Regions from separate parts of the Homo sapiens genome. Here region 2 is linked to region 1. The links come from fine-mapping of genetic effects on gene expression. Tissue or cell type: sigmoid colon. Region 1 holds a variant in brackets; the other region holds the start of a gene. All regions are shown on one strand. Distances are from middle to middle.

The links. PIP is the estimated chance that this variant, and not a neighbour inherited with it, causes the effect.
Region 2: MRGPRD starts here. The variant in region 1 is fine-mapped to the expression of MRGPRD in sigmoid colon (GTEx, PIP 0.95).

The regions. Positions count from the first base shown.
Region 1 is chr11:69,018,566-69,023,770 of GRCh38, reverse strand. No RefSeq gene overlaps it. Among named protein-coding and RNA genes, the nearest start is that of MRGPRF, 7.9 kb to the right of the region's middle. The variant G/A (reference allele first, on the strand shown) is at 2,849.
Region 2 is chr11:68,978,108-68,983,236 of GRCh38, reverse strand. It overlaps MRGPRD (MAS related GPR family member D), which reads left to right and starts at 2,251. Exons shown (of 1, transcript NM_198923.2): 1 at 2,251-3,216. The coding sequence starts at 2,251. The coding sequence ends at 3,216. RefSeq lists an enhancer at 2,762-3,271.

The DNA.
Region 1 (5,205 bases):
CGCCTAACATCTCAGTGAAGTTTCTAGGGGTACAATGGTGGGGGGCGTGTTGAGATAGCCCCTTGAAGAGGAAGACCAGTTGCTGCACCAGGCACCCCCTCCTGTTAAGAAAGTGGCATGACCTTTGGTGGGGCTCTGGGTTTTGGTGCAGCTTACACCTCATTCAGGTGTGCTCTTCCGACCGACTCACTGGTAACCTGCAAGGCTGCTGCCAGTTTCAGGACCCAGAATGAGAGAAGCCTCTGCAATACATCCAGGCTGCTTTCAAGCTGTCATGCTATTGAGCCCAACAGACCCAACAGATCCAGTGGATCTTGAGGTGTCCGGGGCAAGTAGGGATTCTGTATGAGGCCTCTGGCAGGCTCCAACAGGTGTCACAGAAGAGACCACTGGGATTTTAGAGCAAAGACATGTCCTCTTCTGAAGATAACTATTCTCCTTTTGAAAAACAGCTTCTGGGCTGGGCGCGGTGGCTCACACCTGTAATCCCAGCACTTTGGGAGGCCAAGGCCAAGGCGGATCACCTGAGGTCAGGCATTCAAGACCAGCCTGGCCAACATGGTGAAACCCTGTCTCTACTAATATATAAAAATTAGCCGGGCATAATGGCAGGTGCCTGTAATCCCAGCTACTGAGGAGGCTGTGGCAGGAGAATTGCTATGAACCCGGGAGGCGGAGATTGCAGTGAGCCGAGATGGCACCATTGCACTCCAGCCTGGGTGACAAGAGTGAAACTCTGTCTCAAAAAAAGAAAAGAAGAGAAGAGAAGAGAAAAGTCCAGGTGCGGTGGCTCACGCCTGTAATCCCAGCACTTTGGAAGGCCAAGGTGGGCAGATCACAAGGTCAGAAGTTCAAGACCAGCCTGGCCAATATGGTGAAACCCCATCTCTACTAAAAATACAAAAATTAGCCGGGCGTGGTGGTAGGCGCTTGTAATCCCAGTTACTCAGGAGGCTGAGGCAGGAGAATCGCTTGAACCCGGGAGGCAGAGGTTGCAGTGAGCCAAGATCCTGCCACTGCACTCCAGCCTGGGAGACAGAGTGAGACACTGTCTCAAAAAAAAAAAAAAGAAAGAAAGAAAGAAAAAGAAAAACAGCTTCTGGCTTGCTGTTGGACTAAATGTGTCACATTTTCCCACAGGATCTGAGCTGCCCACCCGAAACTAGACGGTAACCAATCCAACACATGATACAGGTAATGTGTGCTGTAGCACCGTGATCAGGTAGAAGTGGGCCACGTGAGCTCAGACTTGAGCAGCTCCTGAAGTCCGTTGCACAAGCAGATGGCCCAGACTCCCGTGCACCCCCTTCACTGCAGAGCTCCTCCCCGCCTCCACATGAATGATCTCATGGGAGTCCCTTATGACCAGCTGACCAAGAAAGAAAAAACTCCAGGTCTGTTTTATGTATGGCTCGCTGGCATCGCCTGAAAGTGGGCAGCTGGAGCTCTACTGCCCCAGTAAGGGTGGCCCTGAAGTGTCCGGGGACAGACTTGCAAACAGTGCACCTGGTTGTTCACATTACACAGAAGGAGAGATGGTCAGAGATGTGAGTCTACACTGATTCATGGGCAGGATCTAACGACTGCTCCGGAGCTTGGAAGGAACACTATTGGACAATTAATCCAAGGTCTCGGGAAGAGGCATGAAGGCGAATCCCTTTTAATGGGCATAAGGGGGGCAGATAGCTCTTTGTGTCCCATGTAAATACTGGCCAACGGTCAGCCTCCCAGAGACGGCTCTCACTAAACAGGTGGACCGGATGACCTATTCCGAGGATGACACTCAGCCTGTTTCTCTGGCCACCTGGTTTCCCATGAGCTCAGCCATGTGAGCTTCCCCTGGCCAAGGCTGACCATCTACAATCACTGTTGAGATCCTACAGGCCCATGATGGGACATCATTTCCCAGGGGACAGCCAGCCACCTCGTGCGTGGCAGGTTGATTTCCTTGGACTGATTCCACTTGGAAAGGGCAGAGATTTGTTTTTCCTGGAATAATCACTTGGTTTTTTGTTTTGTTTTGTTTTGTTTTTGAGACAAAGTCTTGCTCTGTCGCTCAGGCTGGTAGCTGGGATTACAGGAGCGCACCACCATGCCCGGCTAATCTTTTTTGTATTTTTAGTAGAGACGGGGTTTCATCATGTTGGTCAGGCTGGTCTCAAACTCCTGACATTGTGATCTGCCTGCCTTGGCCTTCCGAAGTGCTGGGATTACAGGCGTGAGCCACCGCACCCGTCCAATCACTTGTTTTGAATATGGATTTGTCTTCCTTGCCTACAGTGCTTCTGCCAGAACCACCATCCATGGGCGTATGGGACCTTACAGATCATTAGTGTATTCCCCACGCATTGCTTCTGATCAAGAAGCTTAGTTTTCACAAATGCAATGGACCCGTTGGCTTGTACCCACTGAATTCTCTGTCTTGCCAAGTTCCCCATCATCCTAAGCAAGGAGCAGTTTTTGGACACAGGAATGACCTTTTCATGGCAGACGATGACATGTTGTGGGACCACAGGATGAAGTGTAGGCTCTGAACCATCAACCCCTGAGCCCACCAGCACAGAGGGGGTCACGGCACCGGCTGAGGTGGCTGGCCCTCATGGGTTGCTATGATGGAAATGGGAGACCCATGCCTAGAATCCAGGAGATTCTCTGACATATCCCATAGCACTCTGGTGTCCCATGGTAAAAAGTCACAGGAAACTACAGCAATGCAAAAGAGGTAGCCCCACCCAGGGCACAGATCCTTCGAGAATGAAGGCCTGCATCCTGGCTAACACGGTGAAACCCTACTCTACTAAAAATACAAAAAATCAGCCAGGTGTGGTGGCACATGCCTGTAGTTCCA[G/A]CTACTCGGGAGTCTAAGGCAGGAGAATCGCTTGAACCTGGGAGGCGGAGCTTGCAGTGACCCAAGGTCATGCCGCTGCACTCCAGCCTGTATGACAGAGTGAGACTCCATCTCAAAAAAAAAAAAAAAAAAAATGAAGGCCTGGATCGCCCCACCAGGCCAAGAACAGTGACAAGCTGAAATGGCGGGTGGGCAAAGGCAGCGTGGAACGTGCTGGGGAAAAGAGGCCTTATCTGTTCCTTATCACGGGAACAAGGTTTGCGGTGGTTGCTTGTGCTCTCACCCCTGCTTCGGTATGCGTACATGGTATATATTACTGAGTTCTTTTTCCTTTCCCTCCCTCCCATTCCTAGTCTATCTGATGTGTGTTCATAGCTGTCAGCCCTATACCTAGCATTGAAGTTACAGAATGTGCAAGGCAGGTGTGGCTTAGGAAGGACAGAGATGGACATGACCCAGATATGGATCAAGGGACAAATGGGGACGGGCGCAGTAATCCCAGCACTTTGGGAGGCCGAGGCAGGTGGATCACCTGAGGTCAGGAGTTTGAGACCAGCCTGGCCAACATGGTGAAACCCCCTGTCTCTACTAAAAATACAAAAATTAGCTGGGTGCGGTGGTGCGTGCCTGTAATCCCGGCTCCACAGGAGACTGAGGCAGGAGAAACACTGGAACCCGGGAGGCGGAAGTTGCAGTGAGCCGAGATCGTGCCACTGCACTCCAGCCTGGGCAACAGAACTAGACTCTAGCTAAACAAAAAAATATATAAATTGCTAAAGATAAATTTCATACTATGCACAATTTATCACAATTTTAAAAAATGTTCCTGGAATTAAATATTTTTAAAGAAGCAAAAGTGACTTGAAATATACACACCAACACACCTACACCCATCCCCCAGTCAGTGTTATCTGTTCAGCCATCCCATGGAATCAAGCCTTGGGGAAATTCCAGATTCAAGAGATGCGTTCGAGGCTGAACATTCAGAAGTTTTGTCTGGAAATAGCTGCTTCTGATAAAAAGTTTATAGGAAACATGGTCTCTCCCAAACAGAAGACCCCAGATCTCTCAGACTTGAGAAAGCAAGAGTTTTGTACTAGTTTTGCACCAGTCTCAGGGGAAACTGTGACGAAGTTTGATTGGGTTTGAAGACATATTTGAGTTTTGTTTGCGTACCAGTGGCAGGCCCAGAAGGAAAGCCCGCACGTGACCTCAGTGTTCAGTGCAACTTCAACTCCTGTTTCCCTCTCTCTTGCTGCCCCAAAGCAGGAGTGAGCTTCCCGCCAGGCCCCTGAGGGTCCGACAGCCATCCTGGCAGCTGCTCTCAGCCTGTCTCTGGCTGCTCAAGCCACCCTCGCTGAGGACCTACCTAGGGTTTGCAAGTGTCTGTTGCCATAATAATCCACAGAGAAGGCAAGGGCAGTGGTAAGCTGAAGACAGGACCCCTCAAAGCAAAGTGGGAGAGAATTCTCAGAACTCTTTTCCTTCCCTGTAATGTTTCTTGGGGTCACCCCCTAAAATAAACTCCTTGCACCTCCCCACTAAAAGGTTAAGTCTCGTTAAAAGAGTATCCGCATGGCAAATTGACAGTTGGAGTGTGCTGGACCTGGACGGCCTCTCAGTCCCATGACCTCCTCCTATGGCTGGAAACTGTTCCCCGAGTCCCTTCCATGACAGATGCTGGGTCAGAGTTTCTCAATGAGAAGGGCTCGTGGTGAGGTTTGGAAGGTGAGTCAGTTGGGACCCGTGATTCCCAGGAGGCCATGGCGCCCAGATGCAGTGGCTTCACAGACCTCCCCACGAGCTCTTCCTTCAGGCTTGTGGCGGCCACACGGGGCAGCTTCCCAAGCTCTTCCAGCTCCAGTACCCACACAGGGGCTGGCCAAAGTCCCAGTGAGCGTTCCTCTGATTCTCTGACTACAGCTTTCCAGACTCGCACGCCTCAGACCTGCCCACGCCACGTGTGAACCCCTATTTCCCTGATAGTGTGATGTGTCTGTTTCTTGACCCAAGTCAGGGCCGGGGGAGGAGGAGGGCAGGAAGGAGAGAGACTGAGGAAGAGGGACAGGGAGATGCTGCGGGGAACCTGTCATTAAAAGGAGCACATCAGGCAGGGCACGGTGTCTCACACCTGTAATCCCAGCACTTTGAGAGGCCGAGGTCGGGGGATCACATGAGGTCAAGAGTTTGAGACCAGCCTCACCAACATGGTGAAACCCCGTCTCCACTAAAAATACAAATATTAGCCAGGCGTGGTGGCACTGCCTGTAGTCCCAGCTACTCAAGAGTCTGAGGCAGAAGAATCGCTTGAACCCGGGAGACACAATGAGCCAAGATCTTGCCACTGCAATCCAGCC
Region 2 (5,129 bases), 40 kb after region 1:
GTTCTATGAGCTTCTACTGAAAACTTGAGAGTTTCTTTCTTTTAGGAATTCCAAAAATTTGCTCTAAAATTTTAAGGAAGAATAAAGATTCACAAATGGCTAATTCAATTTTGGCAAACAAAGTTAAAGAAGGGACATGCATCTCATAAAATAAAATGACATAGCAGAAAGACATATTTAAAAAAAAAAACAAAACAAAACACTGTGTTAATGTTGTAGGAACTGAGAGACAAACCAATGACACAGAATGAAGAATGAAATTAAAAACCCAGTCCCATGTGTAAATGAGAACTTAATAAGTCAATAGGGAAAGGACAGACTGTTTAGGAGACAGTGTTAGGAAAGCTGATCCATACTATGGAGGAAAAATCAAGCTCATAAAAAATAGATTCCAGTTGGATCCAAGAACAAAATCTGAATGGGAAAAACTATAAAAGTAATAGAAGAAAATAGAAAAGACTACATTTTTTATCCAGGGAGACAGAATACTTTCAGATTTAGAAGACACAAAATTTCAGAGAAAAAAATTCTGAAGAGTTGGCTATACCAAAATTTAGGATGTCTTCCAACCAAAGTTCACAATAGATAAAGTTGCCATAAAAAACAGAGCGTTCTCAGAGAAAAGTATCTGCAATGTCTAAATCCAGGAAGGCATTAATACCTAGAAATACAAGCAACTCTTGCAAATCAGAAAGGAAAAGAAAAGAAACCCAATTGAAAAATGGACAACAGGTGTGAACAGACAATTTGAAGAAGGGGAACTCCAAATGGCTAACAGATATATGAATTGATGCTCAAACTCACTGTAATCACAGAAATGCAAGTTAAAACATCTACAGTATATCACTTTGCAACCATCAGGTTGGCAAAAGTTAGAAAAACAAATAACACCAAGTGTTGGTGAGAGAATGGGAAAACGTAAACATTCCTATTCTGCTGGTACAGGTGAAACCTGAAGCAGCCACTCAGAAAAAGAATTACCAGGCAATATTTAGTGAGACTAAATGTGCATATGTTCTATGACCGAGCAATCCTCCTCCAAGAATGTATCCCAGAAAAATATTGAGTCAAGTCCAATGGGTACATGCATGAGGATGTCCAACACAGTGTTTTGGTGATAATGGGAATTTTGAAGCAAGCTGAGGATCCACAGTAAGGAATGGATAACAGATCAATGTGCATGATGACATTTTAAACCACAACTTTTGCATACAGCCACCTGGATATATCCTACAAACATATTGTCAAGTGAAAAATAAAAAACCCATCATTAATTCTAAATCACAACATTTACGTAAATTTAAAACACAATGGGCAACCACTCCATCTTGAAAGATATTGAGGTGTCCAAGGATTTGCGTGAAACAGGTTGGATGGATGCAAGCGGCAGGAGGAAAAAGGCAGCTAAGATGGGATGGGGAAGGAAACTTGAATAAATGGAGGGTTTTTAATGGGCTGATGCTCATGGTGTGTCTTAAACTAAGGAGTGTAGTTAATTCTACACTTTGCCCTGAGGTCTAATTTTTTTTTTTTTTTAAGAGACAGCATCTCGCTCTGTCTTCCAGGCTGGGGTGCAGTGGCGGGACCATGGCTCACTACAACCTCAATGTGCCAGGCTCAAGCGATCCTCCCGCCTTGGCCTCTCAAGTAGGTGGGACCACAGGTGTGTGCCACCATGCCTGGCTAATTAAAAAAAAAAATTGTAGAGATGAGATCTTGCTATGTGGCCCAGGCTGGTCTCAAACTCCTGGCCTCAAGCAAACCCCAAAGTGCTGGGGTTACAGGCATGCACCACCACGCCCAGCCCTAAGGTCTATTGTTTTTTTAATTAACTCACAGGGTTTGACAATTACAGGAGAAAAAAAAAATGATTTCAAATGTTTCTATCAAATAGTTTTTCTACATCTATTGATAATAATGATTTTTCTATAATAGATGTAGAAAAAGCATTTGATAAAATTCAATACCTCTCCATGATTTAAAAAATAATTCAAAGCAAGATAGAAGAGAATTTTTTAACCTGATAAAGGGTATTTATAACAGCTTTGTAGCTATAAAGGTGACCCTGGAGGCAGATCTGGGCTGAGTGAGTCACAGGAGTGGGGGAAGGTTAAGCCTCCCGGTCATGGTCTGTTACATAAAGAACCTGGAGGGGAGAGCTCTGAAGCTGGAAATTCGAGGGGCACCCAGGGGTCCCCCGTGGTCCCAGCAACACAGAATTTCACATTGGTACATCTTCCTCTCGTAGGGATGAACCAGACTTTGAATAGCAGTGGGACCGTGGAGTCAGCCCTAAACTATTCCAGAGGGAGCACAGTGCACACGGCCTACCTGGTGCTGAGCTCCCTGGCCATGTTCACCTGCCTGTGCGGGATGGCAGGCAACAGCATGGTGATCTGGCTGCTGGGCTTTCGAATGCACAGGAACCCCTTCTGCATCTATATCCTCAACCTGGCGGCAGCCGACCTCCTCTTCCTCTTCAGCATGGCTTCCACGCTCAGCCTGGAAACCCAGCCCCTGGTCAATACCACTGACAAGGTCCACGAGCTGATGAAGAGACTGATGTACTTTGCCTACACAGTGGGCCTGAGCCTGCTGACGGCCATCAGCACCCAGCGCTGTCTCTCTGTCCTCTTCCCTATCTGGTTCAAGTGTCACCGGCCCAGGCACCTGTCAGCCTGGGTGTGTGGCCTGCTGTGGACACTCTGTCTCCTGATGAACGGGTTGACCTCTTCCTTCTGCAGCAAGTTCTTGAAATTCAATGAAGATCGGTGCTTCAGGGTGGACATGGTCCAGGCCGCCCTCATCATGGGGGTCTTAACCCCAGTGATGACTCTGTCCAGCCTGACCCTCTTTGTCTGGGTGCGGAGGAGCTCCCAGCAGTGGCGGCGGCAGCCCACACGGCTGTTCGTGGTGGTCCTGGCCTCTGTCCTGGTGTTCCTCATCTGTTCCCTGCCTCTGAGCATCTACTGGTTTGTGCTCTACTGGTTGAGCCTGCCGCCCGAGATGCAGGTCCTGTGCTTCAGCTTGTCACGCCTCTCCTCGTCCGTAAGCAGCAGCGCCAACCCCGTCATCTACTTCCTGGTGGGCAGCCGGAGGAGCCACAGGCTGCCCACCAGGTCCCTGGGGACTGTGCTCCAACAGGCGCTTCGCGAGGAGCCCGAGCTGGAAGGTGGGGAGACGCCCACCGTGGGCACCAATGAGATGGGGGCTTGAGAGCCGCCCACAGGTGCTTCCCACCTGTGCGAGCCCATGCCCTGGAGATTCCCGAGCCGTGAGCTGCCTCCCACCTCGTCCCTGCCAAGTGTCTGGCCCGCCTTCTTGGGGGAGCCCCAAGGACTTTGCAGCTGCATGTGGGGGTCACTTCCCTGCATGTCAAAACTCCCCACAACACCTGTGTCCTGGATCTCACAATGCAACCCCGCTGGAAGATGCAATTTATTTGTTTATAGCAGATTATCTGGTTGGGGGAAAATATTAGCTTTTAGCCCTACCCTGCTTTAAGCTGGTTATCTATGGGTGGATAACAGGAATCTCATTTGAATATGAAAGCTTTCTCCCAACCACCTTCTCTGCCTAAGACGGCATCTTTGTGGAGGAGGCAGGTGACCTCGGGTGATCTTTGGCCCTATGCTGGTCCTTGGGTGGCATCAACTGGCCACCAAGGTGGTGCCCCCGTGCACCTTTCCCCAGGTGTGCCTGAAGTCTGGCAAGTAAACGGTGTCGCCATCGCCGACCCGGATCTCGCTGGCTGTGGGCCATGAGACTCTGCCCCACCATCCCTCTGACCCCTGGCCAGCCCTTGACCCCTGGCATTTGCTATGAGGTCGCCTTACCCTGTCACCCCTCGCACCCAGGGCAGGCCTGTTCGCTTTCCTCCAGGCCGCACTGGGAAGGGAAGAGCCTCTGCCTGGCTTCACTGGCAGTCACTCCAGCAGATGCTGATAGGACAGTGCCCCAGGCAGTGGAGGGCAGCCTTCCAGGCAGTGTCCCCCAGAGCCAGAGTCTCATACCTCACTGACTGTCCCTCCCAGGGCCCCCTCACTTTGCCCAAAAGCCCAAAGACGGAACATCTGGGACACACATCAGCTGGCTCCACTCTCCTCCCTCCCCCTTTCCTTCCCACAGTCCCCTGGGTCCAGAACAAGGCAGATGTTTCCTGCACTTTCCACAAATCACAGCCCTTTCCTACCACCCAGCATCCAGCCTCGAGGCTCGGGGCTTGCATGGAGGGGGTGCAAGACAGGAGGTCCCTGCAGAGTCAGTCCTGGACTTAAAGAGGTGAGGGAGGAGGAAAGACGGAAGTGGAAAGATCCTGTCTCCAGACCACAGCCTGGCCTGCAAGCCTGGCACCTGGCTGCGTCATCCTGTTTTTCATGTCAGAAGGTGAAAATGATCTTGTTCTTTCTCTTGGCATCTTTCTGAAGCAGTTTTCAGTCTCCTCCCAAAAGATGGAGCCTTCGAGCCAGCCAGGGCACAGGTCAGATCCTGAGACAGGAGAGGACAGCTCATCAGTAAGCTATAAAATACACCCCTGGAATCAACTCTCACAGCCTGCGGTTCTGTGCCGTGGCAGGTGATGGTGTCCTGGGGACTCGAAGACTGTGCCCTGGACAGGACTCCCCTTCCTGGGCTCCCCCTGTTTGTTCATTGCCCTGGGCTGGGGGCTGTGCAGCCCTCCCAGAAGGAGAAATTACCTCTGAGTGCTTTCCCACCTAGGGCTCAGGCCCCCAGGTCTGTGTGTCCCAGAGAAGCATGCGAGGCAGAGTGGTGGCTCTTTCTCAGTCGTTCCAGCATTTAGCGGAGCACTTGGTACCAGCACTGGCCTCAAATGCCAGATGCACTTAACAAGTGCTCATTTGGCCAGTAAGAGTAACTGATGCCTGTACAGTGCTTTACAGCCCACGTTTTGTCCAGGATCCAACCCATATCTTCTGACTACAAACCCCATGCTTCACAACCCTTCTCCAACCTGGGCAGCCACGAGGTGGCCCAGTCTAAAGCCGACGGTTGGTAGGAAGAACATCTCGCTTCTTAGCACTCAGTGGCTACCACAGGGCCCCTCATTTGCAAGGGGAGGAGCCCTAGAAATTGTTCACACAATGATGTTATGTTTCGATAAAACATAT